3 linked regions of the Homo sapiens genome follow. The protein of the gene in region 1 purifies or fractionates together with the protein of each later gene. This does not show direct contact. Each region holds a gene or a part of one and is shown in the gene's direction. Other genes may lie near its edges.

The links.
Region 2: the proteins of ZSCAN32 (region 1) and PGBD1 purify together in Homo sapiens (affinity purification with mass spectrometry; 3 studies listed by BioGRID and IntAct, with this or other methods). This does not show direct contact.
Region 3: the proteins of ZSCAN32 (region 1) and ZSCAN18 purify together in Homo sapiens (affinity purification with mass spectrometry; 3 studies listed by BioGRID and IntAct, with this or other methods). This does not show direct contact.

Annotation. Positions count from the first base shown.
Region 1 is NC_000016.10:3,383,944-3,387,599, reverse strand, and holds part of ZSCAN32 (zinc finger and SCAN domain-containing protein 32), read left to right. Parts: intron 1-2,658; coding exon 2,659-3,141; intron 3,142-3,656.
Region 2 is NC_000006.12:28,284,536-28,288,191, forward strand, and holds part of PGBD1 (piggyBac transposable element-derived protein 1), read left to right. Parts: intron 1-1,015; coding exon 1,016-1,172; intron 1,173-2,544; coding exon 2,545-2,633; intron 2,634-3,656.
Region 3 is NC_000019.10:58,085,724-58,088,317, reverse strand, and holds part of ZSCAN18 (zinc finger and SCAN domain-containing protein 18), read left to right. Parts: intron 1-913; coding exon 914-1,002; intron 1,003-1,309; coding exon 1,310-1,412; intron 1,413-2,051; coding exon 2,052-2,144; intron 2,145-2,594. UniProt on the Homo sapiens protein: May be involved in transcriptional regulation.

The DNA of each region.
Region 1 (3,656 bases):
GCTTCAGAGCATCATGACCAGATGTTGGAATGCACTTGCTGGGACAGCTCTAGTCAAATCGGTCCTCATGAACTGGCCCAGATGGGCAGCAGGTGTGTGTGGTGAGGGTTATTTAGTAGCCAGCCATCCTGAACTGCTCTTCTCAGATGTTTACTACTTATTCTTACCTTGGTGTGTTAACTGCTGTCATTTAGTTTCCTGTATCTACAAGGATGACAGGAGATATAAACAGATAGAGATGGGCTGGCTGAGGAGGTATTCCTGTATCAGGGAGGGAACAGGCAGATATATCGTTACAACCAGCTCCTCTGTCCCCTGAATCTTTGCTTTCCTTGAGTATCACCTGTTCACTGTGTCCTCTTATGTGGCCACCCTCAGGAAGTCCCACAACTGTCAAGGCAGGCAAGCCACTACCCTTATTGCCAGCCACCTCTCCAGGAGGAATGAGTAGGATTGAGGATAATTAACGAGAAATTAAATAGGCAGCTTTAGTAAATAACCCTATAAGTCATTATCAGTGGAGGGAATGTCTTTTGTATTATACTAAAAGTTTTCATGTTTTAGACAAAAAGCCACAGTGAGATTTCTTCCTAGAAATAACAATAGCCAGTTGTGGCACGGTTTGAGAAACCAGGATGTAACTTTTTTTTTTTTTTTTTTTATACTTTAAGCTTTAAGGTACATGTGCACAAAGTGCAGGTTAGTTACATATGTATACATGTGCCATGTTGGTGTGCTGCACCCATGAACTCGTCATTTAACATTAGGTATATCTCCAAATGCTATCCCTCCCCTCTCTCCCCACCCCACAACAGGCCTCCGTGTGTGATGTTCCCCTACCTGTGTCCATGTGTTCTCACTGTTCAGTTACAACCTATGAGTGACAACATGTGGTATTTGGTTTTTTGTCCTCGCAATAGTTTGCTGAGAATGATGGTTTCCAGCTTCATCCATGTCCCTACAAAGGACATGAACTCATCATTTTTTATGGTTGCATAGTATTCCATGGTGTATACATGCCACATTTTCTTAATCCAGTCTATCATTGTTGGACATTTGGCTTGGTTCCAAGTCTTTGCTGTTGTGAATAGTGCCGCAATAAACATACGTGTGCATGTGTCTTTATAGCAGCATGATTTATAATCCTTTGGGTATACACCTAGTAATGGGATTGCTGGGTCAAATGGTATTTCTGGTTCTAGATCCCTGAGGAATCGCGACACTGACTTCCACAATGGTTGAACTAGTTTACAGTCCCACCAACAGTGTAAAAGTGTTCCTATTTCTCCACATCCTCTCCAGCACCTGTTGTTTCCTGACTTTTTAATGATTGCCATTCTAACTGGTGTGAGATGGTATCTCATTGTAGTTTTGATTTGCATTTCTCTGATGGCCAGTGATGATGAGCATTTTTTCATGTGTCTTTTGGCTGCATAAATGTCTTCTTTTGAGAAGTGTCTGTTCATATCCTTTGCCCACTTTTTGATGGGGTTGTTTTTTTCTTGTAAATTTGTTAGAGTTCATTGTAGATTCTGGATATTAGCCCTTTGTCAGATGAGTAGATTGCAAAAATTTTCTCCCATTCTGTAGGTTGCCTGTTCACTCTGATGGTAGTTTCTTTTGCTGTGCAGAAGCTCTTTGGTTTAATTAGATCCCATTTGTCAATTTTGGCTTTGGTTGCCATTGCTTTTGGTGTTTTAGACATGAAGTCCTTGCCCATGCCTATGTCCTGAATGGTAATGCCTAGGTTTTCTTCTAGGGTTTTTATGGTTTTAGGTCTAACGTTTAAGTCTTTAATCCTTCTTGAATTAATTTTTGTATAAGGTGTAAGGAAGGGATCCAGTTTCAGCTTTCTACATATGGCTAGCCAGGTTTCCCAGCACCATTTATTAAATAGGGAATCCTTTCCCCATTGCTTGTTTTTGTCAGGTTTGTCAAAGATCAGATGGTTGTAGATATGCGGCATTATTTCTGAGGGCTCTGTGCTGTTCCATTGGTCTATTTCTCTGTTTTTGTACCAGTACCATGCTGTTTTGGTTACTGTAGCCTTGTAGTATAGTTTGAAGTCAGGTAGCGTGATGCCTCCAGCTTTGTTCTTTTGGCTTAGGATTGACTTGGCAATGCGGGCTCTTTTTTGGTTCCATATAAACTTTAAAGTAGTTTTTTCCAATTCTGTGAAGAAAGTCATTGGTAGCTTGATGGGGATGGCATTGAATCTATAAATTACCTTGAGCAGTATGGCCATTTTCACGATATTGATTTTTCCTACCCATGAGCATGGCATTCTCTCTCTGTCATCAGGCTGGAGTGCAGTGGCACAATCTCAGCTCACTGCAACCTCTGCCTCCTGGGTTCAAGTGATTCTTCTTCCTCAGCCTCCTGAGTAGCTGGGACTACAGGCACACGGCACCACACCCAGCTATTTTTTGTTGTATTTTTAGTAGAGACGGGGTTTCACCATGTTGGCCAGGATGGTCTCGATCTCTTGACCTCATGATCTGCCCGCCTTGGCCTCCCAAAGTGCTGGGATTACAGGTGTGAGCCACCGCATCCAGCCTAGGATGTAACTTTTTAAGCTGCCAAAACTGCACACTGCAGTATGTACAGTCCTCCATGATCTAACTGACAGATCTAATTGACCTATTCTTTGTCCCCCAGCAACAGGTGTGCCCTGGGGCTATGAAGAGACCAAGACGCTCCTGGCTATTCTTAGTAGTTCTCAATTTTATGGAAAACTCCAGACCTGTCAGCAGAACAGCCAGATCTACAGGGCCATGGCGGAAGGACTCTGGGAGCAGGGTTTTCTGCGGACCCCAGAACAGTGTCGCACCAAGTTCAAAAGCCTACAGTTGAGTTACCGCAAAGTGAGGAGAGGCCGTGTGCCTGAGCCTTGTATCTTTTATGAGGAAATGAATGCTCTTTCAGGCTCCTGGGCCTCTGCACCTCCTATGGCAAGCGATGCTGTTCCTGGCCAAGAAGGAAGTGATATTGAGGCTGGAGAGCTGAATCACCAGAATGGGGAACCCACGGAGGTAGAAGATGGCACTGTGGATGGTGCAGACAGGGATGAAAAGGACTTCAGGAATCCTGGCCAGGAAGTCAGGAAACTAGACCTGCCAGTGCTGTTCCCAAACAGACTTGGTAAGACTCCCTTGGCTCTGATGGTCAAAGGATGGCAAAGTCCACTTTAGAGGCCATTAGCCTAGCAGTTGAGTAGGAGCTGTCACTGATCCTGGCATCATCATCATCTTGATGTGTGACCCTATCCAAGTTTTGGTTTTCATGGAGTTAAAGGTTATTCCCCTTGCATTTTACAGCCCTGATTTTGCATTTGCCAACCTCTTTCAACTAAGTTCATGTCATCTTTTCCCATGGAGTTTCACTATGCATTGTCAGACTGCTGGTTAGGCCTCCAGACCAGGTCCATCTTCTCCCTTTTTCTCTAGCATGGCCTTGCCTTTCACAGCCTGAGCCTATGCTGGCTGGGTACTTAGCACCTTGCTTTCTTCCTGTTTGAGCTGGCCAAGCCCAGGGTTGCCTTTTGTTATTCTGCTGCTAGAAGTTAGAACATTCAAGAATTGAGGGTACACCTATAAACAGACTGGCAGATGATATAGTGCTTAATGTCTTGCCTCAGTTTGTCATTGTGTCAGAAC
Region 2 (3,656 bases), on another chromosome or scaffold:
CTCACTGTTGACCAGGCTGGAGTGCAGTGGTACGATCATAGCATCATTGCAGCCTTGAACTGCAATGGTGGAAGGCTCAAGCAATCCTCCCACCTCAGGCTCCTGAGTAGATGGGACTACAGGTGCATGCCACCATGCCTGGCTAATTTATTTTTAATTTTTTGTAGCGGGGGTGGGGTCTCACTATATTGCCCAGGCTGATCTTGAACTCCTGGCCTCAAGTGATCATGCTGCCTTGGCCTCCCAAAGTGTTGGGATTACAGGCATGAGCCACTGCACCTGGCTATTCGGTGTGTATTTCTGAAGAGTGAGGATATTCTCTTGTATCACAAGAATACAAAAATCAAGTTTAGGGAAATTAAACTTACGATACTATCATATAACCTTAGTCCTTATTCATATTTTGCCATGTTATCCTAATAATGTTCTTTATGATAATTTTCCTGTGATTCAGGATACAAGCCAGCATCACATATTGCACTTAGTTGCCATATCTCTAGTCTGTGAATCTGGAGTAGCTGCTGTCTTTGTCATGACGTTGTTATTTTTGAAGAGTACAGCTAGTTTTTTTGGAGACTATCCCTCAATTTGAGTTTGTCCTATATTTTCTCATGATTCAGGCTGCACATTTTGGCTAGAATACCACAGAGGTAATGTTGTGTTCTCAGTGCGTTACTTCAGGAGGTGCGTAGTGATGATTTGTCCCATTACTGATGAGGTTATGGTGGTACCTGTCAATTTTCTCCACTAGAAAGTTACCATTTTCCCCTTTGTAATTACTAAGTAATCTGTGGGAGACATTTTGAGGTGGTGTACATATCCTGTTCCTCATTAAATTTTCACCAGCTAGTTTAAACATCCACTTGTTTGTTGTTTTTGTTTTTCTGGGCTGGGATCCTTTGCCTGTCTTTTCTGCCTTGTTTGCTGCTGTATCCCCAGCATGTAGAACAGTGCCAGGCTCTTAGCATGCAGTCCATATATGCATGCCCTTTCAAAATAAATCTTTTGTTTCCAGGCCTCTGTCTATATTCAGGGACAGGACATGCACCCAATGGTGGCAGAATATCAAGGAGTCTCTTTGGAGTGTCAGAGCCTCCAGCTCCTGCCTGGGATAACCACCCTGAAGTGTGAACCTCCACAGCGTCCTCAAGGGAACCCCCAAGAAGTGAGTGGTGAGTGCTCGAGTGAGTTTAGTGAGGACGCTGGGAGCTGGCCACTGACACTTGCACAGCCTTCTTGACCTCAAGTTTGTATACATTGTGAAATGATTACCACAAGCTAACTTACATATCTCACAGTTACCTTTTATGTGTCTGTGGTAAGAATTCCTAAGATCTACTCTCATGAAATTTCAAGTATACAATATATTATTATTACTAACTATAGTCAGCATTCTGTACGTAGGTCTTCAGAGCTTATTCATCTTATAACTGCAAGTTTATACCCTGTGACCAACATCAAGTTTTATTTTTTTGTCTAACCCTGTATCTGAACAAACTTGTAAAGACCTGCTTTATTTTACACTGTGCATTTTAAGCTGGTTTATTTAGTATGTATGTGTTGTGGACAAGTACATATAATAGTAAAAGTGAATCGGGGCAAGGCTGTTTTTTTCCAGCAAACTTTATTCCTTCTAGAAATGCAACAACAGCAATAAAAACATTCCATAGTGATCCATTATGGAAGCAAAGAAAAGCAGAGCAAAGAAAAGTGATGTTCTGTTTTATATTTTTGGGTTAGAATTACCACATGTGCTCTTCATTTGATAATTTTGTACTCTGCCATCTGCCAACTGCCAACTTTGTGACCTAGGCAAGTCATTTAATAGGTTATTCAGTTAATCAACAATTATCTGTTTGATCTCTGTGTGTACTCTGCACTCAGCTGTGATTCTTCTGAATGTGCCTAGGATTTTGGAGGCAATAATTTGGACCTTCTTGATTATTTTGAGGATTGGAAATAATCTTTTAAAGTAACAGCACAGTGGCTGGCCTTGTGCAGTCATCATCACCATTTTGATTATTGTTGGTTCTTTGGGATCAGTACCTCCTAACAGTTTTTCTAGTTCATGGCTAACATCTCTTCTCTATTTTTTTAAATATCTTTATTTTCCTGTCTCTCTCTCCATCTTCCTTTCTTCTGCTTTCCTGTTTCCCCTCAGTCTCATCTCTCTACTCTCTACATCCTTTCTTTTGCCTCTGTGTTCTCTCCTTGATCCTTCCTTTATCACCAGCTTCTTCCTCCCCTTTATTTTTGTCTATGATTTTTATTTTTTCTTTATGTGAAAGTGCATGACTGTAAAGCACCTTATGAGTTCATAAATCCCACTCCATTTTTTGGGTGAGAGACCCTAAAGTTGTAGAATTTTAGAATTTCTGACAGAATGAAAGCAGTTGTGATGCTCTTTCTCACACTGTAAAATCTACGTCTTAGTTCTTGAATGTTTAACAAACATAACATTTGGGGGAAAAGGCTGGGTCTCCAAAAAGGGTACCCTAAAGGCCATCATGTCTCATTTAGGACTCTTGCCCTCTCTCTCTGCAGGGCCTGTTCCCCACGGATCAGCTCATCTCCAGGAAAAAAACCCCAGAGACAAGGCTGTAGTGCCTGTGTTTAACCCAGTCAGGTCCCAGGTAAGTAGGATGCCCAAGCTTGTAGGAATATCAGTAGTGGTCTTTCTCCCTCATTCCATGTTCCTTGCCCTTCTCTTGGCTCACACTCATCATCGTGAGAGCCATTCAGGTGGCATAGTCCCTCTGCCTTCACCTTGTCACAGAATATCACAAAGTGTGTTGCATCATTCGAGGAGCTTGTATTGATTATATGCCATTGCCTCATTTCATTGTTCAGGAGGCACGTCCAAATCTCAAGGCATGGGAGTGAGGGGTGGAGTGAGGCTCCTGGTTTCAGAAAGTGCTCCACTCATTTGATGTTGAGTAACTGATATTTTCTCCTTTGAAGTCTCTGGTTTATCTCCCCAGCTTTAGAATAAGGGCCCTTTCTCACACTACTTTATATTCAGCATGTATGCAATTAATGCTTGGTGATAATAATGGAAATTCTATATATCTAAGGTAATACTTAACATCTTCTTCACAAAATGGACTCTGGTTTTTTTTCTTATTAGTGGTTCATTCATTTTCCTAGTCATTTATTTACAAAAAAAAAATAACTCTCTCATTTAAGTCCTCTTGCATACTGCTGCCACATCAGTTTCCTCAAGACACTTGCTCAGTCCTCTTCTATGGCTTCTAATTAATTTTTAATTCTATCAGACCCAGTGCCTCCTGTTATTAACAAATACTTCCTGATAAGAAGTATCTAGAAAATAAAACCTACTCATGCACATTCTGAAAATCAACATAATTCCCTTAAATGTAATTTAATGGTATAATGTAGAAACAAAAAAGTTATTTATTTTAAAAGTAGTGTTTCAAAATGCAAGTGCTTGATGTGATTATAACTAGGGAAATAACAACGTAGTCAGGTGTTTGCACTGAAATATAATTAGTAAGTTCAAATTAAGGAGGAATAAGAAGACCAGAAGCCCAAGAAAATCAAAGAGCAATGGTATAGGTGGACAGTGAAATGAAACTAGTATTGAGTCAGATAATACAAGACTAGACAGAGAAAGTGGGGCCCTTAATTGAAGTAAG
Region 3 (2,594 bases), on another chromosome or scaffold:
TGTGTGTGGTGTGCTGTGTCTGAGTGCTTGCTGTTCGAGGGGTGGGTCCCCCAGGCTGTGGTTGGGTCTGGTTCTTTAGTTGCCCAGCATCGCGTGCTCAGCCCATCCCCATCCTAGAGGTGGGCTCTCTGCCCCTTGGAGTGAAGCTGCCCTGACACCTCCTGACTTGTGTGCCCATATGTGAGGCTCTGGGCACTGTGGGTGGACTCCTCAGGACCACTGGGCAAGTGGTGTGTGAGTTCGACATTTCACATAAAATAGAAACTTCCATGTGGTTTTCCAGAAGTTTTGTGGCTGTTCATTACCAGCACGGAAGGTGCCCACTGGCCTGGATACAGCCCAGCACTATGTGGTGTTGCTTTTTAGGATTTCCACGAAGGCCAGGCACAGTGCCTCATGCCTGTAATCGCAGCACTTTGGGAAGCCAAGGCGGGCAGATCACTTGAGCCCGGGCATTCGAGACCAGCCTGGGCAACATAGGGAGACCCCATCTCTACAAAAAATACAAAAATTAGCCGGGTCCGCACTTTTAGTCCCAGCTACTTGGGAGGCTGAGGTGGGAGGATTGCTTGAGTCCAGGAGGTGGAGGTTGCAGTGAGCCAAGATCATGCCACTGCACTCCAGCCTAGGTGACAGAGCAAGACCCTGTCTTTAAAAAACAAACAAACCAAAAAAAAAAAAGATTTCCATGAATCCAGTGGACTTGAATGGGCATCTCTGGGGCCACCCAAGCCCTGTGGCCACCGCGCTGCTTTGTAAATCAGGGAAAGGTGTAGTGTCCGTTGAGCCTTGGGTGCTGCTGTCACAGAAGCACACTGGGGCCTGTGTGGGAGGCAGCGGGGGCTCCTTGACCCTTGAGGGCACCTGGCCACAGGGAGCTCATTGCCTCAGCTCTGCCTCTCCTTCTCCCCAGCCTGGCTTTCTCCGGACCCCCTGTTTCTGGAACAGAGGAGGGTCAGAGAAGCAAAGACCGAAGAGGACGGCCCTGCCAACACCGAGCAGGTGGGTGGGCACGAGCAGGTGGGTGAGGGGCCTTGGCCTCAGCTTAGAGGCATCCCCCTCCCCATCACCAGTGCTCAGCAGAGGGCTGTGGCCCCAAACGTCCACAGCGCTGAGGCCCAGAACCCACCCTGGTGGGAGCGTGAGGGCGGAATCTTTGTGGTGCGAAGGGGGCTGCCTCCTGCAGTGCACCTGGGTTAGAGTCCCTGGCCAGGGCTGGCTCCTAGCCTGCTCCTGTGGCTGTGGGGCTGCGGCGGGTCCTCCCTTCTCTAGGGCAGGTGGGAGGTCTCAGCCACGACTAATGTTTCAGAAGCTGAAGTCCTTTCCAGAGGACCCTCAGCACCTGGGGGAGTGGGGCCACCTGGACCCTGCCGAGGAGAACCTGAAGAGCTACCGGAAGCTGCTCCTGTGGGGTGAGAGTCGCCTGCCTCGGGGTCACGCCCCACTCCCCATCCCCTTCCGCAGGGGTTGGTGCAGGAGACTGTGACCCCAGGGACTTTGGCTGGGACACTGTGATGTCTTACAGGATTTGAACTTGCACGTGTTGGAGCTTGAATTTATTCGCTGAAGCCCCCACCCTTTCTGATCTAAACATCTGAGTTCTGCCCAGGCCCTGCCTGTAGGACTGAAGCCTCGGAATTTGGAAAGGCCTCCTGGCCCCAAGGCGCCCACATTGCCACCCTCCTTGCCAGATACAGGGCCTCACCTGCATGGCCTGATCAAGGGTCTCCTCTTTTGTAGACGTTCTTGCCCCAGAAACCCTCCTTTTAGGGAGGCCCCCCGACTCAGACTCCTGAGCAATTTTTGTCAATGTCTTTCTTTAGCTTTGCTTTCTCTGAGTCCTGCCTCCGCCTGCCCCGTTGCCCTTCCAGCCTCGCCTTCTTCTTTGCTCCACTGTCCAGGGGCCTAACAGGGAGGTGGCCTTGGTGGGGGTCCCAGTACAGAGAAGAGGAGGTGGGCTGCAGCCTGCCCTGGCTGGCCCACGACACACAACACCCATCAGCCACTCTGTGTTGATGCCTTTTATTTCTTTGGTTTTTAACCCCACTCAGGGTATCAGCTTTCCCAGCCTGACGCTGCCTCCAGGCTGGACACTGAGGAACTCCGGTTGGTGGAAAGAGATCCACAAGGAAGCAGCCTCCCAGGTGAGGTTGGGTTGAATTGGTGTTAGGGCCGGGTGGGGTTTGCTTTTTCTTCAGAGGCTGAGGGGGCCCCTCCCAGCGCCATCAGCCCCAGCAAAGACCTCAGCATTGACTGCTTCACCATTCTCCCACCACCGTGTCTGAGTGAGGCAGGAATCCAGTTACGTCCATGGTCTCTTGCTGCATGACAGACCACCCCAAGACTTGGTCGGTGGAAACGGCAGTGGTGTTAGTTGCCAGGATCTGTGTATGACTGGTCCCGGGGGTGGCCGTTCTGCCCCATTGGAGGCTCTGTGCCAGCACACCAACAAGAACACCTAGAGGCGGACTTGGGCTGGAGGGCCCTGGGTGCCTGTCGCCAGGGGGCTTGTCGCTGGGGGGTTTGGCCTTAGCTATTGACCCCACTCTCTTCGCTGGCAGCCGGGCCCCTCCCTCCAGGAGGGTGCGCTCTGA